Regions from separate parts of the Homo sapiens genome. Here regions 1, 2, 3, 4, 5 and 6 are each reported to be linked to region 7. Evidence: microRNA targets listed by miRTarBase, many of them from high-throughput screens and not tested one by one. Region 7 holds a microRNA gene; each other region holds the end of a gene's coding sequence.

Region 1 (4,069 bases), not on the chromosome of region 7:
ATGGACAAATTTTCTAGTTTAAACTTTTATTGTCTGCTTCTGACCCCTCTCAGGTCACTCTGACTGCTGAGACCTCATGTAGCTACATTTCCTGGCCCCGGAAAAGTCTCCATCTTCTTCTGACCAAAGAGCGATACATCTCCTGCCTCTTCTCGGCTCTGCTGGGATATGACATCTCAGAGAAGCTCTACACTCTCAATGACAAGCTCTTTGCTAAGTTTGGGCTGCGCTTTGACATCCGCCTTCCCAGCCTCTACCATGTCCTGGGTCCCACTGCTGCAGATGCTGGACCAGAGTCCGAGAAGGGTGATGAGGAAGTCTGTGAGCCAGCTGTGTCCCCTCCTCAGGCCACACCCACCTCTCTCCAGCAAACACCCCCTTGTTCTACCCCTCCAGCTACCACCAACTTTCCTGCACCTCCTACCCGGGCCAGGTTGTCCAGGCCAGACAGTGGCATACTGGGTGAGGACTCCACCAGTCTGGTGCTGGAGGATTTTGAGGAGGTGTCAGGATCAGAATCGTTTATGGATTATAGGAGTGATGGGGAGTACATGAGGTGAAGGGAGAACTAACATGGGCACAGCCACCGGCTCAGGATCCTATGTAAGTACTCAGAAGGCAGCCGCTGCACATTCCTGTCAATGGCTGGCCTTAACTCAGCTTGTTAGGGCAAAAAAAATCATTCGTGGAACATTTCCTCTTAGAGGACTCACAGAAAGTGGCATTAACCCAACTTTGAAGATAGCAACTCACTCCGGGTGCATGCAAGGCATGAAGGGATTTTAAAAACTCATTCGTTATTAACTTGATTGCATTTTAGAAAGTGGGCTGGTTGATACGTTGAGCAGGAAGGTAGATTGCTGTTTTTTTGCAAGTTTATTCTAATAGCTGAGGCCACAGCTGGGGCTTAAGGGGCTTTTATTTGTGGCATGCATTTTAAAAGAAAAAGAATGTGGCAGGGTTCTAATTCTGATTGCTTGTCTTTCCTGATACAGAGCCCGTCCTGGAAAGCAGTTGTTATTTAGCCTAGACTGGGCAGGCATCTCTGTTAAAACTGCATATTTTAAAGAGGATTGTGATTATGAGCTAATAGCTCGGGGAGGAAAATGTCCTCATCTTGCTTTCCTCTCACCCAGTGGAGAATGTGTTTGTTGATCACACAGACAGAGGACTAGATACTGCTATGATTAAATGTTACTATGATCAGATAGGTATATGGCAGCCTGGCTTTCCCCAGTCACCCACACCTGTGGGAGGTAGGATGTGCATAAATCCTGGAGGGCCTAACAGTGCGTGCAGGATTTCCCTCACAGAATTTCCCTCCCAGAGAGTCTACAAGAAAGGCTGTGCCCAGTGGTTCTGGGAAATTGCTCTCATGTTTCCCTGGCTGCCCTCATAATACTGTGATGTTTTTCTCTGTAACTCCACCCAACCATGATGTAGGCCTGAATTTCCTGAGGAAAATCCCATTGTTCCCAATTTGGAAGGCGCCTCCCATGGTTCTTCAGAAAGCACCAATAAATTACCTGAGAAACTAGCCCAGTGAGGAAGGCCTCCAGAGTACATGAAATGAATGAGTGAATGTTTGTCTATTTTGAAAAACAGGTTATATAAATGATGAAAGAGGCCATAGAGATGACTGATGAAAGGTTAGAGATTTAGTTTTGTAGATATGGAATTTACAATCTCCTGTGTTACCAGCATCCTTAGAACCATAGTTCAGCTCATTCTGAGGTAATTCCAAGGATCAATCTAACACCCCAGATCACTTTGTTGAGTTCCCCGAAGTGTGCATTGACAACTCTGATCACTCCTTTCCCTCTGTGCAGCTGTTCGCCTTCCTACTCGTTCATCCTGCATCCACGCATGCTCCTTATGTCCTATGGATCCCTCTTGGTCCAACTTGCCCATCCACCTATACACTCTCTCTTCGACTCACAGCAGCTCTCTGTTTTCTCATGTTGTTCTTCCTGGTTTTCTTCTCTTTTCTTGGTTCTATTTTTCTCTTCTTTCTTCTCCAATTTCTTCTCAGTCCTTGATTGCCTCAGTTTGATGTTCTGTTCTTTTTTCCTTTTCTTTCTTGAGACAGGGTCTCACTCTGTCACTCAGGATGGAGTGCAGTGGCATGATGTCGGCTCACTGCAATCTCTACCTCCAAAAGCTCAAGCGATCCTCCCATCCCAGCCTCCCAAGTAACAGGGATTACAGGCACATGTCGCTGTGCCTGGATAATGTTTAATTTTTAAATTTTTTTGTAGAGACAAACTCTCCCCATGTTGCCCAGGTTGTTCTCGAACTCCTGGGCTCAAATAATCCTCCTGCCTTGGTCTCCCGAAGTGTTAGGATTACAGGCATGAGCCACCATGCCTGGCCAGTTTGCTGCTCTTAAGTGTCCATTTTCTATGTCTTCTCAGTTCATTTCTCCCTCTTCACTTGTCTCTTGTTTTCTTCCATTTTATTGTTCATATATTTATCTCTCCTATTACCTCCTTTTTTCTTTTTCCCACCTTTTTTGCCTTGCTGTATCTATTCTTCCTCCTAAACACCCTGTACCCCCATCTTATTAGTTTTTAATCCTAACTCTTCCAAAGATCAGTACTTTTCCCTCTGCCTATAAAGAAAACCATTCAAGTGAAGGTGTAAAATCCCCAGCTTTAGGAATGTTTTCCAAACATCAGGAGGCAGGCAGCATGGTAAATGAGAAAGAGGCCAGGACTGGGAGTCCAAAGTCCTGGCTTCTATGTCTGGCTTTGCTACTAATCAAATATGTGACTTTTTGCAAACCATACCTCACTAAACCTTACTTTCTTCATTTGAGCGTGTTGGACCAGCTGTCCCCAGGAACCCCCTTGGATTGATCTGAGAAGGCAAGGATAAGTTTTTCAAAGGAAGAAAAGAGGAGTAGTCAGTCCGCAGTACAGTAGACACAAGCCCCAGGACATCTGAGTGTCTTTCAGCAAGAACTCTCTGTGATATTTCACTACAATTTCTCTGGCACCTTGGGACTCTCCTCAGCCCTTGTGGTGGTGGGTCTTGTTTAACTAGCAGTTCCCTCCATTCTATGCCTGTGAAGAATCTATCACCTACCATGTGATTACAGTGCAGATTTTTTTTTCCTTTTCCTTTTCTTTTTCTTTCTTTTTTTTTTTTTTTTTGTTTGAGACGGAGTCTCGCTTTGTCACCCAGGCTGCAGCGCAGTGGCGCGATCTCGGCTCACTGCAAGCTCCGCCTCCCGGGTTCACCGCCATTCTCCTGCCTCAGCCTCCCGAGTAGCTGGGACTATAGGCGCCCGCCACCGTGCCTGGCTAATTTTTTCTATTTTTAGTAGAGACAGGGTTTCACCGTGTTAGCCAGGATGGTCTCCATCTCCTGACGTGGTGATCCGCCCGCCTCGGGCTCCCAAAGTGCTGGGATTACGGGCGTGAGCCACTGCGCCCGGCCTACAGTGCGGATATTTTATGAGAGAGGAGATCACAACTCAGTCCCCAAGCCCTCAACCCTTAATACATACTATCGTATGAAATGCCTCTTTCCAAATTCAGCCTTTTCTAAAACTCAAGATGAGAAAACTGCTGATGAGGCTCACTTTCTAAAATACCGGAATTTGCAATATAGGGAGAATAGTTTTTCATGTTTCTTTGTTTAAGCAATAGAGAGAAAGGAAACTTATGTCGTTTACTTTTCAGGCCATAGAGGTTTTCAGAACAACTTGAAAACATGATCAAATTAGCCAAACTTCTGATAGTTTTCAATGTAGTCTGTGATCATGGGATAATTTAGCCTCAGTTCTTTTTCTGAAATTGTGTTTTGAATGTTTGATTTGACTTATTTACCATCAAACTTGCTATAAGGTTATTACTCTAATGAATAAGCATATTCCCTTAATTGGGAGCAATTTACTATTATTTCTTTCATAAAGTAGGGCACCATTCACCATCTATTTCCTGGCTCTTTAGTTATCAAAATGTTAAGCTCATTGCTATTCATCCCGGCACAGCACTTATATGAGAGGCATGAAGCTGGCTGAATTCTGCATCATTAGGAATGACACAGCCTCATCACATTGACA
Region 2 (4,069 bases), not on the chromosome of region 7:
TAAAAGGCCACAGAGGGTCCACTGCACTGTCTCATCACTTACGTTAAATTCACTAATCCTTAAGGGTTTAAATTTTCGTGCAGTAAAACATCTTCCTTTTCATTCCTTTCACCTAGGTATACCGGACACTACTTCATAACCACTTTACTCTACTCCTTCTTCCTGGGATGTTTTGGTGTGGATCGATTCTGTTTGGGACACACTGGCACTGCAGTAGGGAAGCTGTTGACGCTTGGAGGACTTGGGATTTGGTGGTTTGTTGACCTTATTTTGCTAATTACTGGAGGGCTGATGCCAAGTGATGGCAGCAACTGGTGCACTGTTTACTAAGAAGAGCTGCCATCATGGCCCAGGGAGGCGGGTGAAAGCTCCGTCTTCTGAATTCATCTCTACAGGCTCAAAACTCCTCTTTGATATCAGACCTGATGTTATTTTCCTTCTTTTGGAGGGCATTTGTTTGGTTAAGAAGGCTTCTTTGGACTTTGGAATTTCAACCCAGATTTTACCTTGCAGACGGAATGACAAGCAAAAAGTGTTGTGGGGAATCAAATTTGTTCCTTTCCTCATGCACAAAACATAAAGGATAGTGGCGAGTTTACAAGCTGTGGATGGGTTTCCATAGTCTTCCTTTCTGTACATTGCTATATCTTCAGTCCTTTGGAGCAAGTGGACCTAACAAGTTGAGCAAAATGAATATTTGGATCCATGTTCCTCTTGTGACCCTGAGTCTTCATGCAAGGAGATCTGAAGCTGAACAATGAAAATCTTCAGCAGAAATAGAAATGGCCGTGGATTGTAATACACACTGAAATTCTGACTTTCTGAATTTAAATGTAGAATAAATTTTACCAACTTGGAGTACTGTATGAGTATTTTCAGTAGGGGGAATAAACTCAAAATTATATTTGTTTTGCAGAAACCTAGTCATTTGAAATGAGCCATCCTATTAAGCCCTCTTTTGTCTCCATTATGTTCCAGAGGCAGTATATGCAGTGCAATAATTTTTTCATTCCACTTATGTTTTGAAAGCCAGCGGCATCAGATGTGTGAGTTGAGCTATTCCTCCTGGCAGAATTGTCCAATCTAAAAATCAGCGTTTACCAGCCCATGCTAATAAAATTAAGATTTCATACAAGTTTCTGTAAAACTATTCTTCATGATTAGCTCTCCCTGTGGGCTGCAGCAGTCAGAAAGAGATAACAGCCACACCTCTGCATTCCCCGGTCACCAGGAATAAAAGGAAATGTTCCAGATTGTAAGTGGTTTTAAAAACTCAGTTCTCATCGTTTGCAATCTAAGTTGAAAGAACTATTAAATATAAAATCAAAGGTGGGCAATGTGGCCAAGTCAATGGAAGAGGCTTTACTCAGAATAACTTACAAATTCTAGAAACAAGGTAGAACTCACTCAGTTTACCTAATAATAATTGAATTTAAGACCAAATATCACAGTTGAAATAACTTCCCTGGATACATTCTATCATTTTGTAGCTTTCCTAAGAATTTCTTGCTTTATCATTCCTGATTAATCACTGTTTTTACATTATTAAAGGTGGCAATTTTCTGTAAAAAATTTAAAACAGATGATCCTATTCTGTCTTGAAAGTTCTGTACCACACTGACCTTAACCTTGCTTATAACATAACAATTGGTAAACTTTTAATTCATAATCTTTATACCCTAAGATAGTATTTATTAAATTTTTATGGGTCATGAAGAAACTAGACCCTCTCCCCAGAAAAATCTACATACACAGAATTTACATAGAACTTGGGTTCATCTACACAATTTATGCATGAAATAAAATTGTACTGGTACCCTATAAATTTATACAAATAAAAGAGTTTAAGGGAGTTCAAGGATGCCATATGTATATTTTAAAAAAATTTCTAAGGGAAGTCTAAAAAACATAAATTATAATATTACCCAAAATAAGATGCTACTTTTCACCTAACCAAGTCCTGCCTCATTTCACACTTTAACCTCCTAAGTATATTCATAACCCTACCAAAAGTTGTTTTCTTTAAAAAATAAGAAACTTTAGGGCCAGCGCAATGGTGCAAGCCTGTAATCCCTGCACTTTGGGAGGCCGAGGCAGGTGAATCCTTTAAGGTCAGGAGTTCGAGACCAGCCTGGCCAACATGGTGAGACACACTCCCCCACCCCCGCCCAGTCTCTAGTAAAAATGCAAAAATTAGCCGGGCGTGGTGGCGTGCACCTGTAATCCCAGCTACTCGGGAGGCTGAGGTAAGAGAATCACTTGAACTGAGGAGGCAGAGATTGCAGTGAGCCGAGATCCTGCCACTGCACTTCAGCCTGGGCAACAGAGTGAGACTCTGACCAAAAAAGAAATTTTGCAGCTCCAAGGCTTGAAGTCATTTATGTTGCCAGGGGTAAGAGCTTGGTTGAAGGGCTAAAAGACTAGAAACTACTGAAGATGCCCTTCTTACTGTCAGTAAAGCTGCTGGAGACAAAAGAAGTTGTTCTCGCTGCTAGAGTGGTAATTTGAGAATCATCAGTATTCCTATGTGACAATCCAAAATTACTGGTTTTCATTTGACTTGTAAATGACACCCATCATCCATCTGCCCACAAACCTGGCCAAATGTGATACAACCTGAAAACCTGATGGACTAAAGGAGTACTATTTAACAATTGATTGCCTTTGCACTTTATTCAGGTTGTTTCTTAAATTTTGGTAGACAGATCCATTTGTATATGTGTGTGTTATATCTAGTTTATGGCTATAGAGAAGGTTTAAAATACTACAGTGTCCTTCCCTCAAGGTTAAATTAGAAGCTGCCTGCCTTTTAGTTGTTTCTTGCCTTTAATAAAATGTTATCAGTTCCCCCAGATTTCCTGGCACTGTGTTCTTCTTCCACTTGACATAGTCAGGCATCTTAGCAACAGTATAGTACCCCAACCTAATGATCCCTGAATGTGTATATGTGTTTCAAACTCCATTTTTCTTATTTTTTAATTGTAATCTCACAACATTACCATTTTTCTTTTTATTTTTATTTTTAAGTTCTGAGGTACATATGCAGGATGTGCAGGTTTGTTTCATAGGTAAATGTGTGCCATGATGGTTTGCTGCACCTATCAATCAACCCATCACCTGGGTGTTAAGCCCAGCATGCATTAGCTATTTTTGCTAATGCTCTCCCTCCCTCTACCCTACCCACTGCCAGGCCCCAGTGTGTGTTGTTCCCCTCCCTATGTTCATGTGTTCTCATTGTTCAGCTCCCACTTATAAGTGAGAACATGCAGTATTTGGTTTTCTGTTCCTGCGTTAGTTTGCTGAGGATAATGGTTTCCAGCTCCATCCATGTCCCTGCAGAGGACTGTTGCTTTTTATGGCTGCATAGTATTCCATGGTGTATATGTACCACATTTGCTTTATCCAGTCTGTCATTGATGGGCATTTGGGTTGATAACCATCCATTTTTCTTTGTAAGAAAAAGATCCAAAAACTTCTTGCCATGTTTGGCACATCTCCAATACAAACCACGTGATATAACTGGTTTTTTTTTTTTTAGATAATCCCACTTTAAAACAAGATATTTAATTGATTGTTTCAGGTATGACTGTCAGGAGCAAATTATCTTTTCCCCGAAGAACAGCCATGGAAAGGGAATCACTGTCAAGAGCTTTAACAACATCAGTTGTAGTAGTAATAGGTTTCCCATTTATGTTGACAATTACATCGTGATCTCTCAATCCAGAGCTGAGAGAGGGAGAAAAAAAAGAGGATCATGAAACTATAACAAGAATTTTACTTATCCCCATCTATAATTTAATATTTCTGTCTTAATGGCACTATTTTGCTGGCATTAAGCATACAAACGAGAAAATAGCCTCAATCCTTCCAAATCATAAAGCTATTCTAAAATATGCTGCAAAAAAGTCACCTAGAGGACAACTGTCTTATTTACCTTTATAAAATTAATTTCCTATCAGAATCATGTGAGAAGTTTACTCCTCCCATTTTGGGGAGTTGGTTTGGAAGGGGGAGTTTAGCTTTTAATTTCTATCAACCCCTGACCTCTGTGAACTTCAAACATGCTCCC
Region 3 (4,058 bases), not on the chromosome of region 7:
GTTCAGTTAATCATTAAACTGTATCGTTGTTAGCACGTAGGTAGCTTTATATTACTTGTACCAACAAAACTTAATTTTTGACACACCTCTAATAACATCACTTTTCTGTTTTGGAAGATCAAAGCCATCGGCCAGACAGAGTTGAATGCAAGCAATCCAGAAGAAGTGTTACAGCTGGCAGCGCAGAGAAGGAAAAAAAAGTTTCTCCAAGCAATGGCAAAACTTTACTTTTAAGCAGTTAAATTTTTTTAACTTTTATTTTTTAAACAATGGGCTAAAAATAAACAGTATTAAAAGGTTAAGTTTATATAATACATATGTACACAATTAGTGGTGTTTTCTTTTCAGACAAAATACTGAAACAAATATTAGTTTAAAAACAAACTATACAGAAGACTTCATACCGTAACAATAAATGTATAGTTTCTTCAAAGGGAGAAGAGATTCACATATCTGATAACAAAATAAACTAGCAATCTAGTTTTCTAATCTACTTTATGAGGCTGGATTTTTTTTTTAGAAAAGCTAATTTAAAATATTTAGAAATAGCTAGCCTATGTACAGCAAGTTTTCATGTCTTTTTTTAATAAATAGATTTCTAGGAGTCAGTATATATTTAATACTCTTCTTCCTTAAGAAAATAGAAGTTTAGGTCAAGTGTTAAGCTTTATCACTTTGACACTGTCCTTATCTCACAATGGAGGAATTTAGAAAGGACCTTAACAGTTTCACAAACATAAATAAAGCCTTAGTCACACTAAATTAAAAAAAAAAATTCCTTAGGGATATCTTAGAGTAGTAAAGTGACTTCCTCATATAAATAGTTTGAAAGGGTACTTAAGTTTTTCACCCAAATTGTGATATACAAAAAGGTTATTACCAAGCAACCTACATGTCAAGAAAGCCCCAGTTAGGAAGGAGCCACAGCATTTATCTTGTTTATAATTTCTTTGGTACTCCCACTGTTTAGAGCACAGGTTGAACACCATGTTCATCTAAGCCTTATTAGTTAAAAAATGTGTTATGGCAAGGCAAATAAACTAGTTTAAAAAACATTAAATTTCACCATTTGTAGAAATTCAAGTTTTATAATAGCTTGCTATAGCAGCTATAGATAAATTAGTCACCTTATTACAAAACTAAACCTTTGTAAACAAGTTTAAATTTAATTTTCAAGAACCAAATTGCACTAGTCAAGAGTGTAGGAATTTTGAGAATCTAACAACTAGATTCAAAGTACTGTATCACTTAGTATACCCTTTAAGGTAGCACTTATCCAGTCCAAAACTCCAGTGACAAAATTCCTAGTTTATCAAGATAAACACAGTAACACTGGATTAAAGGAAAAACATTGCTATGGTATAGACTGTGGTTGGCTTCTATCCAGTAACCTTGGGAATGAAGACATCTTTGTAAACAAGTCCTGCTGTTTCTTTAACAGCTAACATAGGAAATAATTAAATGTATTCTTTAGTGCCAATTGTAAGTTTTAAAATCAGAATGGCAGTGTAACTTGTGAATTGGCTAGGGCAATCAATCACAGCACTACTTTCTGTAAAACTTTAGTAGTTCAGTGATACCAGTTCTACCCAATCTTGGTGAATTCCAACTTGTTTGCTTAGTTATCTTCTTTAGTGTTTTCCTGGTGGTTTTTCAGTGCTCTTCGGTGGTGTCATAATGCCTCCATTGCACACTGGTGACAACTGTCCCCCTTTTCTGAAGGTGTTTATGTAATTTACTTCCTCCTATACATGGGAAGAAATCATGCACTGATTTCATAAATCAAAGTCAAACCAGACTTCTGGGTACTTATTTGAGATTATTTAGGCCTAATTTTAATAGTCTTTTTATGTCTTTGCAAGTGTGAAGGGTCATATTCTGAAAGTTTCTGTAACGTTATATATTTTTTAAACTCTTTATCTAGACTGTTGGCATTGATCTTGAGACACTTCACAAATCTTGCTTTGATTTCAAAGTAATTTTATTAACTTTTCTACATTTTGAAATCAGTGTGCCCCTTAGAACTTTCTTTCCCCTGAAACTGCCTGAAGGAGTACTCTATTCCTACCATCAGTTTTGGTGACTTACTAGATTCAGATAGCAAAGCCAAAAAACTCACAAAAAAACATACCAGCATAGCCAAATAGTTTGTATGTGTCTGGATATTATGTCTGTCTTCCATAGGAATCTTCTTAAAAGTCTTCAGCTTCACTGGACTAGTACTTTTTACTACATTGACAAAAGGTACCATCCAATCTACACATTCTGAAATACTGTCCCACTCCAAACCTAGATAGATAGAAAAAAGTTAGAAAAGCATGAAGGTTGTACATCAGAAACTATCTTACATATGTCTGATGTACTTGTTGCTGTTTTTGAGATATTTTAAAAGAAACCAAATCATAACCAAGAAGTTTAGCATGTCAAAACAGATTATCACTCTCAAACTATTTACATGACTATGTTGAAGGGAAAAAGGACTTCAGAACTTCTTAACCAGTACCTTCTACATATGAAATTGAAATGGTCAAATCCCAAAGAACTCTTAAAGCAGAACTATAATGTTGATTCATTTCAACTGTATTTAAATTCCATTTGGTCTTTTTGTTGATACACATTCAGGATTGGAAAGTACTTCTAACAGAAAGATAATTACTGAACAGCTAATTTTTTTTTTGCCAAAGTTTTAAATGCATGTTTAGCAGAATGTTAAAGTTCAGAGACTGTAGTCCCATTAGAAGTTGTGAAAAGGTAAGAAGACAACAAATAGAGAGTCTTACCTGAGGCTTTCTTAACCACTTCAATGGAGGTAAAATGGCACAAGGCAGCAGCAGTCAGTATTCTGTACTGGAACTCTAATGAATCAATGGCTAGAATACACAGATCTAAAAGCTAACAGGAAAAACAAAAGTACAAGCAATTTAGGAGAAAGATGAGTACTAAATGTCTCTTGCTAAAACCTTAGGGATCTAGAGATAAATAAGCCACCACCCGGCCAGGCGCGGTGGCTCACGCCTGTAATCCCAGCACTTTGGGAGGCCGAGGCGGGTGGATCACAAGGTCACGAGATCGAGACCATCCTGGCTAACACGGTGAAACCCCGCCTCTACTAAAAAATACAAAAAATTAGCTGGGCTTGGTGGCACGCGCCTGTAGTCCCAGCTACTCGGGAGGCTGAGGCAGGAGAATGGCGTGAACCCGGGATGCAGAGCTTGCAGTGAGCAGAGATCGCGCCACTGCACTCCAGCCTGGGCGAAAGAGCGAGACTCCGTCTCAAAAAAAAAAAAAACAAGCCACCAACCTGAAGGAAGTAGACAAGGAAGGACTGTTGCAATACAGTGTGACATGTACTAGCAGGAAGGGCACCTAATCCAGATTGGAAAAGATAGTGATGGCCTCAAATTGCCATAAATGGGTCTTAAAAGATAAGGGAGCCAGGAAGAGTAGGAGGCAGAGAATGTTCTAGGTATAGGGACATTACTTGGAACTCAGTTCACAGTTCAGAACTCCTAAGGTGAAAAATAAATAAGGAGTACCTTCATTTCTTATCAAGAAAGATGAGGGGTGGTGGCTAGAAAGAGGCATGGTCTAGATTGGATCACAAAGGGTCTTTAAGAAGTCAGAATTTTATAGGCTGATTCTTGAAGCTACTGGAAGATTTTTAAATCAAAGTTCCATTTTAAGAAAGATACCTTAGAATGCAGTGAAGCAGACAGACTAGAAGAAAACATGTTTATTAAGCAGTGAGATTAGTTAAAAGGCTGTATAATCTAGGCAATAAGAGCTGAACTAGTAGCAGTGGAATGGTATAGTGTAAAAGGGGTAGATTTCACAGATTTGAGAAGATACTTGTGCAGTGGAATTAAACTTCAATTCTGTTTGTCCTCATTGGTCCAGAAGGTAGGAGAAATGGGAGAAGAGCTGGGAATTGGAAGTGAAATATTACTGTTATATACCTCTAGAAAGTCCACATTGTTTATCGGCTTATCAAAGATTTACCATCACTATCAGAAGGGTATAGCTGCCTAGGACAATTTGGGATGCTAGGAATTCTGGAT
Region 4 (4,069 bases), not on the chromosome of region 7:
GAAACACTGCATGTTACTCACTGGGCTGAAAAGCTAGTGACTGGCCTCAGTTTACCAATATGTAAAATGATCCCTTCCTTCAGACCCCAGTTTCTGCATCTGGAATGCCAGTTGGTTAAATGATAGTTGAGTAGGGATGGTGGGAGGAGCAGGGATTCATGGCTGAAGGTCAATTTATTTTCAAATAATTTTTTAGATTGAGCAACACAGATTCTCCCACCACATGTGAGTATTTTTCCACATTTGATATACGGATGGCTATTTAAAAAGACAAAATGGGGAAGTTCACATATCCATGACTGAAACACATCAAATCATTTTACTGATACAGAAAGCATGGCTTTGCTCGTAGATATAAACTGGAAAGGCATAGCATTGTGACAACAGTTGAAAATAAAGTTTTGAAATTAACTTTCAGAAGAAAATGTGTGAAACTTCTATTTCAAGTAAATATCTAGTACAGTTTCTCTGAGGAGTCCACAAGTCCATACAAAAAAGACCTATATTGGTGTGTGTGTATGTGTGTGTGTTGTCTTTTTTTTTCTCCCTAGGTCCAGAGAGTAGCCCTCCTGCTAGTCCTGTCCCAGCTTGCTCCCAGCAACAAGTCATCCAGCATAATACCATCACTACTTCCTCATCGGTCAGCGAGGTGGTAGGAAGCTCCACCCTCAGCCAGCTCACCACTCACAGAACAGACCTGAATCCGATTCTTTAAAATGCACCATCAGACCTGGCCTCCAAGAAGAGCTGTAGCGTACCATGCGTCCTTTCTTTTAAGGGCATTTTTAGAATTAACTCAGACCTGGAAGACTCCTCAGTTCTTCAAAGACTGGCTTTCATTTTTATAGTTATTATGGAAATGTTGTCTTTTATACTTAGTTATATAAGAAAAAAGGGAGTTATGCAATTAATATCTATCAGCTTGGGAAACGCTTTGGTGCTTTTCTCCAGTTTTCTGGTACCAGTTACTTGTTTATAAACTGAACCTTTTCTGTATATAGCCATGGTTTCATTCTTATCAGTCCAACCCTTTGCCTGAAACATTGAATCTTGTTAAACCACAGCTTTTAGCTAAAATGAGGTATACCTAGATGTCAAGTAAGACAGATCCAAGGTAACTGGGTAGGAAATCTTTTGACATCTTAACTCATGTTGAGTTTGTGCTGTGGTGTCACCAGAATTCCAGATAAACACACAGCCTTTCCCATACCTTTTTTTTTCTTACTATAAAATATTATAAGATCCATTGATGTCCAAATAATACCACCAAGCATCTCTTCACCTCTCCTCCTCTTGGTCCACTTGCTAATGCCCAGTTTTCTTCTCCATTTCCACTTTTTCTTAGGCTCCCTATTTACTATTCATTTTGACTTCCTTCTGTTTTATTTTTTTCCCTTTAGCATTGCATGTGAATAAGAAAATAATGTTTAAAGAAAAAAAAAAAAAAGCAAACCTCCAAAACGTGGACCTAACCATTGCTTCACTTACACTTCACCCACAGCTGGAGTTCATTCAACTCTTGCTTTTCACAAAATAGTAACCAGGAGATGTTTAATGTGCCTGATTTAATGTTTTTAATAATCACAGCAAATGAAAGGTGGTTTAGTTATAAGTGAAGCATGGTTGAATACCAGCTGGGGAGACACTAGGGAAGGGAGCTTTGTAAGCCTTGATTGCGAAAGTCCAAATTTTGATGTGGGGCTATAACATGACACCCTTGGATTGCGACTGGTTTTATACGGCCTGCCTATAACGTTGAAAATCCATGTACTACATAATAATTCAGAAGGGCTCTATTCACTACACAGATTACATTGTTCAATCATCAGCTGCTAATAGCCTAAGATTTATTTTTTTTTTTTTCTTAAGCCTATGGAACCGGCTTTGCTGTTCTGGGGGGTGAAAATAGACTAACTACTGGAGAAACAAAGAGAGAAAGAAAACCCAGTGTTTCCATAGGGGCACTTTTAGCCTTCCCACAACAGTTAAGCACTCTTTGACTGCTGAAGGAACCCCATGGATGAGGTGCAGGCTACTTCACTCTTTTTTTTTCTTTTTTGAGACAGAGTCTCACCTATTGCCCAGACTGAAGTGCAGTGGTGCGATCATGGATCACTGCAGCAGCATCCTCCGAGTTCAAGCTATCCTTCCACCTCCGCCTCCTGAGTAGCTGGGACCACAGGTTCACATAACCATGCCTGGCTAATTTATTTTTACTTTTATTTTAAAATAAAAGATGAGGTCTGTCTTATGTTGCCCAGGCTGGTCTCAAACTATCCTACTTCTTCCTCCCAAAGTGTTGGGATTATAGGTGTGAGCCACTGCACCCAGCCTACTTCACTCTTCTGAATTATTCTGATTTATTTTCAACAACTTTTGTGAACTTGCCCGTGATACAAAGCAGATAGTCCCTGAACCACAGTCGTGCCTCCTTGAAACAAGCCATTCTACTGTGCTAATGTTTTAATATCACATCTCACAAATAACAGGGGTGAATGTTTCTCTCTAGCAATCTAGGCAGGTGCTGGTGTTTCATCTCCATTTGAATGCTTGACCTCTTAATGTGTGTGTGTGTGTGTGTGTGTGTGTGTGTGTTCATGGGTTTTAAAAGAACAGTATTTTACAAAAGGTGTAGCTTTTATAAGAGTGCAGAAAAGGGAAGGATGTGTTTTTTTCTCTCACTATAGTATAAGAATCTATTTTGGAGAAAAAAAGAAAATATGAGGGTCTCGAAGCATGATTTTTATATAACTAGTTTCAGTTTTATCTAATAACTTACTTTTTAAATCAATATTTATCAACAATCTTTCCTTGTATGCAGTGCTTTCAAAAGATGGTTTTGAGTGTCCAGTGAAACTTATGACTTGGATATATGGTTGAAGAATCAAAACAAAAGCAAAAAAAAAAAGCAAAAAAAGAAAAGAGAAAAAAAGAAAAAATGCAAATGGAATAATTTTCTATTATATTTTAGACAAACATATCATTTTCGAGTATTTTAAATACTGAATTCATAGTTGTTGTTTTTTAAATTCCAACAGTAACAGCTGAATGGTTTAATCTGACTGGCTTCCTAAGAAATGTTTAAGACTCAGCTTTAAAAAGAAGTTAACATTCATATCTCTGTTTTGAAATCAAAAATCATATTTCAAAATTCTTTCCTAGGACCATCTATGTGTCTCCCCTCCCCTCCACAAAAAGGAGAAAGAGTGCATTAAAATGTTTAGTTGGGTTTTTTAATTTTTAATTTTTATGTTATGTTTTGCTTTGTTTTAAGTAAACAAAAATTTTTCTTTCTTTACTGCATGCATAGCACTTAATAAAATGGATTTTTAAAAAATCCACTAGTAATATCAGAATGTCCAGGGAGTGACTGTCACTACAATGATGGTTTAGTTTACTTCTGTTCCACCTTTTGATTGAAATATTTAGTTGTTAGGCTGAAAGCCTCGGCAGTTAAGAACTTGCCTGAGTTTTCTTCGTTCAGCAACTTGACAGTTTGACTGATGTGCATTATATATAGCTCAATTATGTCTGTTTTTTATGCTAAGTAGGAAAACCAACCACACACATTAGCAAACCGGCCTCAACATATAATTAGAATAAACTGTCTTCTTGTTCTACTCAGGGCCTTTAGGTGTGTTCATTCACGGTATGGAAATACAGTAAATGAAAGATTCCAACTAGTTGTCAGTGCTTCTTGAAATTCCAAACAGAAAGATACATTGGTCAAATCCAACACTTGGCTTATCAATATTAAGTCTTTTACCTAAAGGCCCAGCCGTCACCAGACAACAGAATAATCAATCTGCCTGAAAATCCCTCCTCCTTGTCCTACACTTTTTGCCTGTTTGGGAGAATATCTTTGTACTCCATTCTCCTCCCTCAGCCAGTTACTGGGTCACCCATCCATGTGTTCATGAATCAATCATCACGGCCTGCAGAGCACCTGTCCTAAGGAGGGAAAATCCTGTCACACTGCCTCTCCCCATTCGTGTGTGGTTTTCTTGATCGGTGAGATCTGTCTCTGAAGTCACTGCCAGCCTCCCTGGGAACGTCTATAGTGCCTCCC
Region 5 (4,068 bases), not on the chromosome of region 7:
TGATACACAGAAAGGAAGTCACCAAGTGGAGCTGTAATACAAGTTCATAACTGGAGGGGTGGGTAGCCATGTCTTGATGGAGTTAACTATGAGCTCTAAAAATAAATACTTTCATTCCCTTGCTTCACCATTTAACAAAGAAGCATGTAAAATGTTCTAAATTTCTGTTGTCTTAATAAAAGGTCACGCCAAAGATGCTTTCCCCTAATTTTCAATTCATTGCCAGGTAGTGGCATCTGCTGGTTTTGAATTTTTCTGTCTTCCTCCCATGTCCCCTGTCCCTGCAATCCTGTCCCTAGGACCCCTGCAAAGTGAAATGTAGAATAATAGGATTTTGAGTGGAAAGATGATGATGAGACTTTTGCCCTTTGAAAATCCCTTTGCCAGACCACCTTCTATAATCTGCTGTTTTTAGAAAGGAAGGACCAGAGACAAAGGTTAATGATTTCATTAATGATATGCACCCAGATGCCTAGGGGAATAGCAATTAAAGGCACTCTTGGGGAGCAAGGCAACTTTCTTAAATGAAGATTTCCCCTCATTTATCTTTTAATAGTCTTGATTCTGTCATATCAGGTTTTCCTTAAAGCAGAGCACAGCAATGAGAGAAGGTGCAGCTTCCAGGCGCGTAGATACCAGTGTGGGTGGAGGATGTCTTAGCTTTTCCAAGTTGCTCGAGATAAAACTATAGAATCCAGTTAAGAGATATAACTTACTATGAAGGGTGTCCTGGCCACTCTAGGAAAATCTAATGGAATATCTCATGCATAAAAGACAATGCTGGGTGCATGGGAGGTGAACACAGGAAGTCCTAGCACTCTCGCCTACTAACAAGAGAATTTTTGTGGTTTGGATGGGTGTTTAGGAATTAGTGTTTGGTGAAGAAATTTTTTTTTGCAATGCTAGAAATATCCTGGAAACAAAAACTTGATGACTAAAAAGAACAGATTTTTATGCTGCTGGATTCAAAGGCATCACTTATCCTACAGAGAAGTGATTCTAGTGGGTTCTACCGAACAGGTGCAGGCGCTCACAGCTCAGGTGAGTGCTGCTGAAAATCACCAACTTTGTCATTTTACAGCTTTGGCCTTCAAGAAAAACACTATCTAGTAATGCTGGGGCTTTTAAAAAGCAGAAGGATAAGTCCTTTCGTTCATATTTAAATCTCCATGAGATATTACACTCATAATAAGAATGCTACATTTGACAAATTAATTAGTTTTTAACTAGCTTTCCCCTTTATCAAATATTAGCTCCTAAGAACATTAATATGGAATTGTATGGAATGCTACTAGCAATAATCTGTAGCTGTTATAACTGTTTACATATGGGTCATCTTCACAGTTTGACAGTTCATAATGCAATCAGCTAAGATTCAGTATTTATGGCTTCGTGTTATACAATTTTTTTCAGAGACACTCCAGAAAGGAAAATCTTTACATTCTTTCAGACATAACCTTATTGATCACCACATCATCTATTAACATTGTGCTTCTTAATCAATAGAAACTTAAACTTACGAACTAGGATCATTCTGAAACACCTGTCAGATTGGCATTTTAAAATACTCTTTAATTTAGAAAACTCCTGTGTGGCCACTATCCACTACAGTTTCTAGATGTTTTGAGTTTTTTAAAGGAGAGAGAATAATGGAAAAGAGAAACATAGCCAATAGCCATTAAAATTTAAAAAACTTAATGAATTTTTATCATCTTAATAAATATATATCAAGAAAACCTCACTTTATTACAACACATTCATATACAAGCATCTATTAGCTAAGTTTTGAACATCAAATGTTTATCAAATATTGAAAATAAAGGACAAAACATTACTAGACTATTTAACTATAACACAAGAAAATGTTTTAAAAATTGGTCTTTGTGGACAATTGTCCAAATGATCCTACTCATACACTGTATGAATGAGACCTATATTTAATATTAATAGCAATAATAAAAAAAGCTTTATCTTGGAGAAACTGGGAGGGCTTACTTATTTCCTCCGTTTGGCATTTGGTTTCTGTGAAGTATTATTTGAACAGGCCCAAGTCAATTAGTAAACTTGGAAACTGGAATACAGTTTAGCAGGAAGAGTTGGCTGGAGTGGAAGGAAGGATGGTAGGAGGGCCACTCTGAACACTTTTCAAATGTACAAGTTAAAGATATTATTTGGAAAATGTAGACCAAATACATAGTAACTATTATAGATTAAGTCCCATTTCTCCAAAATAACTTTCAAAAACCTAAAGTCTTTACATTCTTTAAGATAAACCTTATTGATCACCACATCATTTATTAACATTGTGCTTCTTAATCAACAGCAAAGTTCATATATAAAAACCCACATGCTTTTATAATCTAAACAAGTGAAATGATGCAAAACAGAGAAAAGTATAATGCATGCCACTGGTTCGTGAACTTCATTGGACAAGAAAACAAAACAAAACAACCCAAAACCCAGAAAACCCCAACCCCAGCAACACACAGTTGCCATAGAAAAGCTCGAGCAGCCCGTGCTGCTTTCTAACAGCTCTCTCTCTCATTTCCTCCATCCCTATTGAAAAAACGGCGAATCCAAAAGCAATTGGGCATCAAAAATAAAGAATAGAGATGTCGAATCAAAAGCTGAACACAATAGTTCAAAGTTAACAGTTTCCAAACCATATTGATCCACCCTGTGGTTTTTTTTTTTTTTTTTTTTTTGTCCTGTTTGTTAAATCCCTGCTGTAACTCTGATTTATCCTTAATTTTCACATTGGCAAAAATTAAGATAAAAGTAAGGCACCAAAAATCGCCCTGTATAACACCTCTCTAAAAGCCTCATCACCCATCACAGGCAAGCCAGAAACTTGCAGGGAATACCCTCTCTGTGTAAGACTGTTGATTGCCGCCCCTAGACAGGTGTGTTTCATTATGTTACATCCTATTTTCATCTGTCACACAAGACTGTTAGGTACAAATACTTAACAGCACCATTAAGCCATTTCATCTAGCTCCCTGTCTTTAGTCTTTTATTTAAAAAAAATATTGTATCATATAGAAGAAGCAGGTATCTTTGCTGGTTATATTGATTTGCTTACCAAATAACTCCCTAATTAACTGGCAAACATGTAGAAATTTCTTAGCTAGTGACAGGCTCCTTGGGGGGCAATGGAAATATTGCAAGGGCACATTGTCCCCCAATCTCATCTACTGATCTTTTCCGTAAGAAAACTATGATATACTTTTAAGCATTAAGTCAATCGTTTCCTTGGTAAAAATCACCACATTTATAAGAAGCTCGCTGATGCCTGCTATACAGATGTTTTACGCAATCTGCTCTCCAGGCATTAAAACGACATGGCATGTTCATGGCATAATTTTATCTGTTGTACAAAACTACAAAATCCATTCAAAATAAAATTTACGAGAGCTAACTGATCATGCTGTGCATGCTTCAAAGTTCGGTGAGAAGATGGCTCATATTTTACTTCCTTTGCTGCAGCACAGTTTGTTACTTGGTGGTGAAGCCTCCTTTTTCCGTAAGGACTTTTTCCAAGATTCATTTACATTGTTTCTTTCATTATATCCGGTCTCAAAATAATCATAAAATTGGCCTTTGCACTCAAAAGCAAGGTCATTTCCCACAGGTTCGTGGCTGAGGGGGCCACCATCTCTGTTGGTGTCATCATTTGCTTTCTCATCATTTAATTTGGCCTTTTCCTGAACACCAAGTGATCTGACATTAGTGACAAAGATTTCATTGGCAGGTATCTGGCCATCACTCTTGTAAATAGATGCACTACCTACATCAAAATCCACCTGGCGGGAACAACTCGGTAAAGGCAAAGGGGGAGAGGAAGAGGAAGATGAGGAGGAAGAAGAGGCGGAGGGAGAGGAGGCAGCAGTGGAGGCACTTCCAACATTAGCATTGACAGAAAGGGGTAAATTTAGGTAGTGGCCACCACATTCTTGGTAAAAGCAGCAGGCATGAAACTTTTCACATTCCTCTTTGGCCATCCGTGGTCGTTTTCGGTAAGGGCAGTCTTGAGCCATAAACCACTCTTGGGCAGAGGTGCCATTGAAA
Region 6 (4,069 bases), not on the chromosome of region 7:
AGTACTTTACTATTTGTAGATTTACTGGTTACTTTAAAAGATTAAGAGAATGTTTGCTGGCTGGGTGCAGTGGCTCATGCCTCTAATTCCAGCACTTCGGGAGGCCAAGGCAGGAAGATCCCTTGAGCCCAGGAGTTTGACACCAGCCTGGGCAACACAGTGAGACGTTGTCTCTTAAAAAAAAAAAAAAAAAAAAAAAAAAAAAAAGCAGGCGTGGTAGTGCAGTGCACACCAGTGTTCCTGGCTACTTGGGAAGATCACTTGAACTTGGGAGGTCAAGGCTGCAGTGAGCTGTGATCATGCCACTCCAGCCTGGGTGACAGAGGGATAGCCTGTCTCAAAAAAAAAAGTTTGTTAACAGCATTTCCTCAGAGTATAAGCTTGTTTTTCTAGGTCTGTCCAAGAAGATCTTGGAGTATATTTTTTCTCCCTCTTCAGTAGAGAATAGTGACTTTTTGGGTAATACTTTAGCTGTGAAAATTTTTCTTCTAAATTTTTCTACTCTGAACAGGAATGTTTTAAAACACTGTTAGGCCTATTGAGTGAGCTATTTTTCTAAAACATTTTATCTTTTGAAATACGTATCTTATTAACAAGAATGTTTTTAACCAAAAAAAAAAAGAATTCTAACTTGTATTGCAAGCCCTCTTCCCAGTTTCAATTTTTATACAAATATTAAATCACTGATTCTTCTATGATCCAAGCACAGATATGTTACTTTTTAAGGATAAAAATAATCAAATCACTTAGGTTAAACTGGTTGTCTACAGTCACACAGTAAGTTAGATAAAGCAAAGGAGGTGTCAAAGGGTAACACTAAATTCCATTCACTAGCATCTTGCCTCACTAACACTCTCATAAGATAGATTACTAAATAATATAAGTATTAATAAATGGAATTTCCAAGAACTTTCAACTAATAAAGGGTGGGATTATAAGATTAGTTTTTGTTTTACTAATTACAACTATATCCTGGAACTATTTACATACTACCTAGGAAATAAAGTTTGTTTATTCTTGCAGGATTGTTTTTAAAAGCAGTATTTTCCCAAATATTAATTTAACAGTAATCCTAAAAGTAACTCAGGAAATAAAAAACTTATCACTTCAGTACATTTTATTCATAATGAGGTAAAGTTTTTGTTTTTTCTCTATATATGTAGATATATATAGCAACACAGGTTAATTGTGCTTGAGGATTCCTATGAATTACAAGATTATACATGTTCCCATTCTATTTTTCTACTCCTAAAGCAATCGTATATACATTATTTCCTAATAACTCAATAAGGTAAAAGTCTTAAATAATTTTATTTTATCCTCTACTCTTCTGAGACCATGTATTCCCATGTTGTGGGGAAATAAATTCTGGCACAGGAATGAAGAGACCAAGATTTCTAGGTTATAGTACTTCAAAATCACACTCTGTCTTGGACCTCAGCTCTCTAACAAAAATTTAAAAAATTAGCTTTTAGGTTTCTAAGGTTTCTTCCAGCTCAAATATGCCATGATTTGAAAAGTTACCTTCTGTGGTAGCTTCTCCTACTTATCCTTTCTTTCTTAAATGTTACCCTAGTCCATTTAATTAGACCTACCTAAATACTTCAGAAAGGTCATATCCATCCAATCTTGTATCCTTGATGGATTTAATATTAACTTATAGATATATTTGTCTAAAAGTATTATGGAAATAGTACACAACTGAAGGTAATGCACTTTTGTACTATATTCTATTTAACATTTCTATTAGGAATAAAATGATCATGTTATAATTTTTAAGATCTTGGGTTTACTTAAACAATTCAATAACTATTACGTAATTCTATTAGTTTCTTTAAACTTTAAATTCAATCTGAACGTAATATTTTAATGTGTCAAAAGTAGCTAATATATTCAGTTCAATGCTTGACAGGGTTAAAAACGTGAACAACATCAGAAGCAATGCATGTCTGGAGTGGGGGTGAGGGTGCTATGAGCTTTGCTGAACAAAAATATCTCAGGTAAATCACACTTAAAAACTGATACCAGTTGCCTTGAAGGAATGGGTACATATCAAAACCAGCATTAATATGTCAAATAAATTTGAAAGGAATATTTTCTTATTCCCAGAGCCCAAATTTCACATAAAACAGAAGAAAATATGTACAGAAATCCTCAGACTACTAAAGTCCCCCTTTCCCAAAAAACATAAACCCTCTAACCCCCAAGCACCTAAAAGGCTATAATTTACATTAACTACAGTTTGACTTTTCACATAACAGCGAGAAGGACCTTACAAATCCTCAGTAAATCTTCAATTAATATTTAGAGAACAACAGATACGCAAACAGGTTTTATGTGTAAGCTACCTTAGACGGCCATAATAAAATTATGAGCAAAGATAATGGCATTTCAACAGATTGCTTTAATGTTAAACCTCACAATGAAGGATACTTGCTCAATAAAATAATGCACTTTAGTGTAATGAAAAGTTTAATACATACAAATAATACTGAAAAAAATTCCTAGTGACTGGCTAGCTGGTAATATGCTACTCAAAAATTGCCTTTCAAACCTAAAGGACCTAGATTGCTTTATTATTTGTTTACACTATCAAAGAAGAATATTTTGCCACAAAATGAATAATGGACAAAGAGGCCATTGACATGTATACTTTTAAAAATATTAACTAAAAAAATAGTTAAAAGTAAAAAATTTTATTTTAAAAGTAAGGAAAAAGCTAAACTGGTTATAGTTGAGATTTTAATTGTTATACTTTGTGAATGAGGGGGAGTTAAGCGCTTGAAACATTTTATATTATTTACACTTAAGAGTATGAAAAACAGTGTGAGACTACATCTGGCTATGTTATTATAATTCAGAGGAAATCATTATCAAGTCACACCCCTTGTAGCAATAAAATATAACAAAGCAAAAAAAAAAAAGCAAACCAAATAGAATCCCTCAGCCAACACAAACTTAGTCTATTCTTAGGGGTTGCCATGATGTTTCTGATTAATGGTAACATATTCCACAAGTGCAAATAAAACATCAGAAATAAAATATCTTTTTCACTGAATAAGAAAGCTGTTATTTGTGTGATCTTAGTAAAACTCTGAAAGGAATTTGTAAAACTCATTCATAATTTAATCAAATGCCTTAGTTTTTTTTTTTACCCCCTTGGTATAAAAGTTTACAGATGAGTTTCATATTTCATCACAGTTATATGGTCTAGTGCATTTCAGAGTATTTGGACATTATCAAAGCTGTCCTTTCCCAATGAAAACATTTAAGAAAACGTTAAGCACTTCTCAAGTAACATGATGTGGAATTACACTTTTTGCTCTTACCTCTTTTAGGTACACACGTATTATTCAACAAAGCAAAACTATTTTACAGTGTCTGTTAACAAAAAGTTCTCTATTAGATAGAGGAAACTACAGTATCCTGAAGCTATTTCCCCAAGAGCTAGTTTAGTAGATAGACCTTTGGGCCCATCTTATTTTTCCTTCTTTTTTTTTTTTCAGTAAGGTAACTTTCCATTATGCACATACTATACCATCATCATTCATTGGGTGGAGATTAGCTGGGAAGTAGCTGTATATTTTTAGTGAGATCACTGATGGCAATGGATCTCTGGATCGTGCTGCTGCTTATGGTTAAATCATATCTAATGTGAAATTTCGAATTACATCCAGAGCTCCAGTATCAAAGCCGCACATATCCAACATGCCTCTATCATCTGGGTCTGCAATGGTGAAACCATTTGATGTCATTCCACAAACAATCAATTTAGCTGGAATATCCATTTTCTGTAGAAAAAGACCAAAATACATATTAAAAACATAAATGTAAGGAAATGCAAAATACCTCCAAAATTAAAACACTTTAACATTTCTCTACCAGAGCTTTTTAAATACAAAGTCATTTTTTTGCGGGGGTCAATCTTTTAAGGCTAGAATATGGGAGTTTTAGAAGAAGGGACAATAAAATTGTATAAGAATCTGCCTGAAATTTCTACTTCTCTCTTCAATTACTTTACTTGTTCTATGGGCTGCAGTGTACATTATTGAGCAGCCTAGGCACTTTG
Region 7 (4,069 bases):
CATAATATAACACTTTATAAAAGCTAGACTTGTCCTTTCAGCTGTTTTATATAGTATCCTCTTAACTTACAGCTTAAGTTAGTTGACTCATTCAGTTTGAAGAATAAAAGGAATAAATCCTCAAAGCATTCTTATCTAAAAGAGAAAGGAATTTTGTTATGCTAATAAGTATCATAGAAAATTTTCCTTTAAAGAAAAGTTCAGCAGGGCCAGTGCCAACTGTTGTGTTGGTAATTGTATTGAACCTTTTCATAGAATTAGTGGGGATTTGAACTCTTTTTTAAAAGTTATAATCTAAAGACTTTTTTATAGTTAGCTCATCATTAATTTTTATGTCAAAACTTGCAGAAGGCCAGGCACGGTGGCTCACACCTGTAATCCCACCACTCTGGGAGGCCAAGGCGGGTGGATCACCTGAGGTCAGGAATTTCAGACCAGCCTGGCCAACATTGTGAAACCCTGTGTCTACTTTAAAAATACACAAAAAAAATTAGCCGGGCATGGTGGCGCACACCTGTAATACCAGCTACTCGGGAGGCTGAGGCAGGAGAATCGTTTGAACCTAGGAGGCGGAGGTTCCAGTGAGCTGAGATGGCGCCACTGCACTCCAGCCTGGGCAACAGAGTGAGACTGTCTCAAAAAAAAAAAAAAAAAACTTAACAGAAAAGTGTGCATTTATGTTTGTATGTGCCCTAGTGTAGAAAAGTAAAATGTACTGGGAAATTAACATGATAGTTTATTGTTTTTGAGTTTTTTTACAGGTATATAGCAATTACTGTCTCATAATTTACATTTTTATATGGAAACATACTTCTGGGTTTCCTTTTGGTTTTTATTTTCTTACCTCTCTACATTCTACTATCCCAATCTGATTAAAAATGAGAAATACTTTTTCATATCTCTTATATTTGTATTTCTTGTCAAACAACACTTGCTTACCCCACAGTGTCAAGAAGCATGTTTTTTTTTAATTACATAAAAGGGTGAAACTAATTATTCAACCAAATAATGAAAACACTAGTAGACTTGGAGCAATTTTTTTTCACTGTGGCACAAGTAATGTTTAAAAGTTTGTATTTGAACTTAAAGAAATTTTGCCCTAAATTAACAAGCCCAACTGAGCAAAGTATTTTTAGACCAGATAGGGTATGGGCAGTAGAAATACAGGATCTTTCATTATTTTTCCTTTGGTGGATAGGGAGGAGGATGGGGAAATATCTCAAGGATAAAATGCTCTAGGTCTTTTATCCATGTGTCCCAGTGGACCACAACTGAAATCAGGACTAACATTACTGCTGGGGAAATGAATGTACTAGTCTTTTGTTATGAATGTGAAACTACTGAACTGTTCATTCAAAACAAGGTTGAGTAAACCCCTGTCAACAGAAACAGAAGAAACCCTGGCTACACACATAAGACTTTCTGAACAATGCACTGTATAATGGGAAAGAACAACAAAATAAAAGTCAGAATCCTGATGGCCCTTAGTCATTTGTAACTGGTGTTAGGCATATCACTTAAAGCCACTGAGTTTCAGTTGGACTCATTTGCAAAGTATGGAATTTTTACTGTGTTGTCTGTTGAAGCCTCTGTGTACTGTAAAACTCCATAATTCTTTGTGTCTCATGTGAGTCATTTCTAGTTCTAAAAGGTAGAATAATAGAGAATTGGTTTGTAACAGCTTGGCAACCAACTGTCAATAACTGGAGTCAATGAAAGCAACTATTTCAAAAGATCAGATTACTTACCAGTTTCACTAATAAAGATTTATTACTTTAAACCTTTATCATAAAATGTATGCTTTGAATACTGTGAAGTACACTGCATATAAGGAGTGTGGTATAGTATAAAGAAACTTTCTGCAGGTAGTAATTATAGTGAAGATTTTAGGTTTACAAAGCCCTAGCTGTTTTCTGTGTAGCTTTTATTATTCTTATGACTCTTGACAAGTTTGTAGCTTCACCATATACATTTAATATTTTGCAATAATTGGCCTTGTTCCTGAGCTGTTGGATTCGGGGCCGTAGCACTGTCTGAGAGGTTTACATTTCTCACAGTGAACCGGTCTCTTTTTCAGCTGCTTCCTGGCTTCTTTTTACTCAGGTTTCCACTGCTTTTTTGCTTTTTTTAATGCTGTATGAAGGTGTTAACATTTGTTTATATTTTTCATTAATTGTAATACCTTTAAATCATGCATCATACTCAGAAATAGGGATTAGAATTTAAGTGACATCTTTGGCCTAATATAATTTACCTGTTAAAAATTTGTGAAAGCTATTGCTTATTTCTTTTCCAAAGTAGATTTGGATGACAAATTCAGTTTGGTTTTGAGCTTATCTAAAAAGCTTAATGTTTTAAGCATACCAAACTCATTAGCAGAAGTCAAATATGTCTCTCCCTATTGCTACACAACTTTTTAGGGATATTGTTATATATGAAAGCATGACATCAAACGGACCTAATACACCTAAATGCATTTGAAGCTACTTGGTCTCGGTTCTTACCAACGATATAATTTAATTTTTTTTTCCAAACGATGATGTTGTTGCATACCTGTGGAAAGCAAAATGATTCTGTGAAACTATACTTTTAGTTTTGCAACCATTTGATAACTTCAAAGATTATCAATGTATTATATCTTTAGTCTTAGCTTTCCAGATAACCCAGAATCATATGGTTCCAAGTTGATTAAGCTTTGTTACCAGCAGACTATGGTAGGATCCTGATGAACGACACTATGGAAGAAACTTGTTAGGATAAACAGTCTTCAATGTGTGCATATTGTTGACAGAATTTGAAGGCACAAATTTAAGAGTAACTAGGGTGTAAAAGGCGAGCAAAGAAAAGTCAGCACTACTGGGTAAGCAGGTGAGGGGGCTTATTGATAGGAGAGTCGGCTATGTCAAATAGGGACTCAAGGCACAAAGTCAATTTCTTTACTGACAACTTTCAATCCAAGTAATAGGAATTTTGTATTTGTAAATTACTAGGTAGTGGCTCTGGCTATTCTTGTTTTTTCATTGATTTCTGTGAGCATTTCTTAGTATGTATTGTGTGATTCAGCATAGATTCAGACATTGTATAATACCTACAAATCCACCTATTTCCCTTTTCCCTTCTCCATTAACCTGCCGCCACTGAAATCTGGAGCCAAATATATCTGGTAAGTACCCACAGATTTCCTTGAGTTGTATAGACTCTTCCATGGAATAGTTCTTTAAATAGCTGTGAGCAATAAACTCTGTGTGACTGTTTTTGTTAGAATTGGTTTTTGTATATGTATATGTTTATTTCAGGCACAGGAGTGAGAGAAGAGGGGATGAGAGATGAGAAGGGATAATCAAGTGTGATGGCAATTGCATCTCCTTCCAAATACACCCATGGGGCTGGCTTTAGTTGAACTTGCCCACCTACTAAAATAGTGCCACAGACAGAAGCCCAAGATTATAAGCTTGAGGTTTTAACAATTTGGTCTTGTAGATGCCTAGTTACAAATAAATTTGGCTTTAGTAAAATGGCTCATCTTTAAAAAAAAAAAAAAAGAAAACTACCTTCACAGTGCTTCTATTGTACAAGCACAGTCTGGAAAAAAAATTAATAGGTACTATTAAGTGAAATAACCTTAGATTCATGGGTATTCTAAGCATTTCTTTAATACTTTTTGTAATTTTTCTGATTATTTCTGTGTTATTAAGAATGCTTTCCTTTAGAACAAATGCTAGTTCAGATCACCTATATAAAATAAAATCAGCCTGTTAATGCCTGTTCAATACTTTTGTGCTGAGCACTGCATTTCCTTCCTGCTCTCTTCTTGGTTAAAGTGAGAGTTAAAAATAGAACATTCTGTGGAGCCCTCCAGGGAAGTTCCTGAACCATCAGTTTATATTGTCCTAGTTCTCTTAGCTTGCAGAATTGATTGTGCTTTCCTCTGAAAGTGCTGAAAGAAATGGGATAATATTGCAACAGTGCAGTCCTTTAACAAAACAGAATGGTAGTGTTTTAAAAAAAAAAATCTATGTTGAGATCTGGATATTTATTTTGTTGTTTGGTATCACTTACTATTGGCATT

What was found. Region 7 holds the annotated microRNA hsa-miR-128-3p (UCACAGUGAACCGGUCUCUUU, at 2,052-2,072, shown strand). A microRNA usually pairs through its seed, bases 2 to 8, with sites in the 3' UTR of a target mRNA and lowers its output. Matches are read on the target gene's strand: a 7mer-m8 pairs with bases 2 to 8, a 7mer-A1 pairs with bases 2 to 7 and ends in A, and an 8mer does both.
Region 1: miRTarBase lists POPDC2 as a target of hsa-miR-128-3p. The part of its 3' UTR that is shown has no 7-base or 8-base seed match.
Region 2: the mRNA of HTRA4 is a reported target of hsa-miR-128-3p. The part of its 3' UTR that is shown has no 7-base or 8-base seed match.
Region 3: the mRNA of INTS8 is a reported target of hsa-miR-128-3p. The part of its 3' UTR that is shown has no 7-base or 8-base seed match.
Region 4: the mRNA of CREB5 is a reported target of hsa-miR-128-3p. The part of its 3' UTR that is shown has no 7-base or 8-base seed match.
Region 5: miRTarBase lists SERTAD4 as a target of hsa-miR-128-3p. Seed matches in the 3' UTR shown: 7mer-A1 at 1,339-1,345.
Region 6: miRTarBase lists RO60 as a target of hsa-miR-128-3p. Seed matches in the 3' UTR shown: 7mer-A1 at 3,196-3,202 and 7mer-m8 at 156-162.

The regions. Positions count from the first base shown.
Region 1 is chr3:119,644,653-119,648,721 of GRCh38, reverse strand. It overlaps POPDC2 (popeye domain cAMP effector 2), which reads left to right. Exons shown (of 4, transcript NM_001369919.2): 3 at 54-603. The coding sequence ends at 560. Among named protein-coding and RNA genes, the nearest start is that of POPDC2, 14 kb to the left of the region's middle.
Region 2 is chr8:38,987,593-38,991,661 of GRCh38, reverse strand. HTRA4 (HtrA serine peptidase 4) reads right to left here. Exons shown (of 9, transcript NM_153692.4): 9 at 2,999-3,726. The coding sequence ends at 3,564. TM2D2 (TM2 domain containing 2) reads left to right here. Exons shown (of 4, transcript NM_078473.3): 4 at 117-2,854. The coding sequence ends at 330. Among named protein-coding and RNA genes, the nearest start is that of TM2D2, 6.9 kb to the left of the region's middle.
Region 3 is chr8:94,880,001-94,884,058 of GRCh38, forward strand. It overlaps INTS8 (integrator complex subunit 8), which reads left to right. Exons shown (of 27, transcript NM_017864.4): 27 at 118-1,746. The coding sequence ends at 234. CCNE2 (cyclin E2) reads right to left here. Exons shown (of 12, transcript NM_057749.3): 10 at 2,781-2,892; 11 at 2,132-2,289; 12 at 224-1,745. The coding sequence ends at 1,632. Among named protein-coding and RNA genes, the nearest start is that of CCNE2, 13 kb to the right of the region's middle.
Region 4 is chr7:28,818,565-28,822,633 of GRCh38, forward strand. CREB5 (cAMP responsive element binding protein 5) reads left to right here. Exons shown (of 11, transcript NM_182898.4): 11 at 552-4,069. The coding sequence ends at 715. Among named protein-coding and RNA genes, the nearest start is that of TRIL, 140 kb to the right of the region's middle.
Region 5 is chr1:210,241,731-210,245,798 of GRCh38, reverse strand. It overlaps SERTAD4 (SERTA domain containing 4), which reads right to left. Exons shown (of 4, transcript NM_019605.5): 4 at 1-4,068. The coding sequence ends at 3,462. Among named protein-coding and RNA genes, the nearest start is that of SERTAD4-AS1, 9.9 kb to the right of the region's middle.
Region 6 is chr1:193,084,301-193,088,369 of GRCh38, reverse strand. RO60 (Ro60, Y RNA binding protein) reads right to left here. Exons shown (of 9, transcript NM_001173524.2): 9 at 1-3,791. The coding sequence ends at 3,639. Among named protein-coding and RNA genes, the nearest start is that of GLRX2, 19 kb to the left of the region's middle.
Region 7 is chr2:135,663,395-135,667,463 of GRCh38, forward strand. MIR128-1 (microRNA 128-1) reads left to right here and starts at 2,003; the gene lies at 2,003-2,084. All of the region lies in intron 19 of R3HDM1 (R3H domain containing 1), which reads left to right. It overlaps LOC124907893 (a long non-coding RNA gene), which reads left to right. Exons shown (of 2, transcript XR_007087245.1): 1 at 1-3,163. RefSeq lists an enhancer at 1,321-1,420.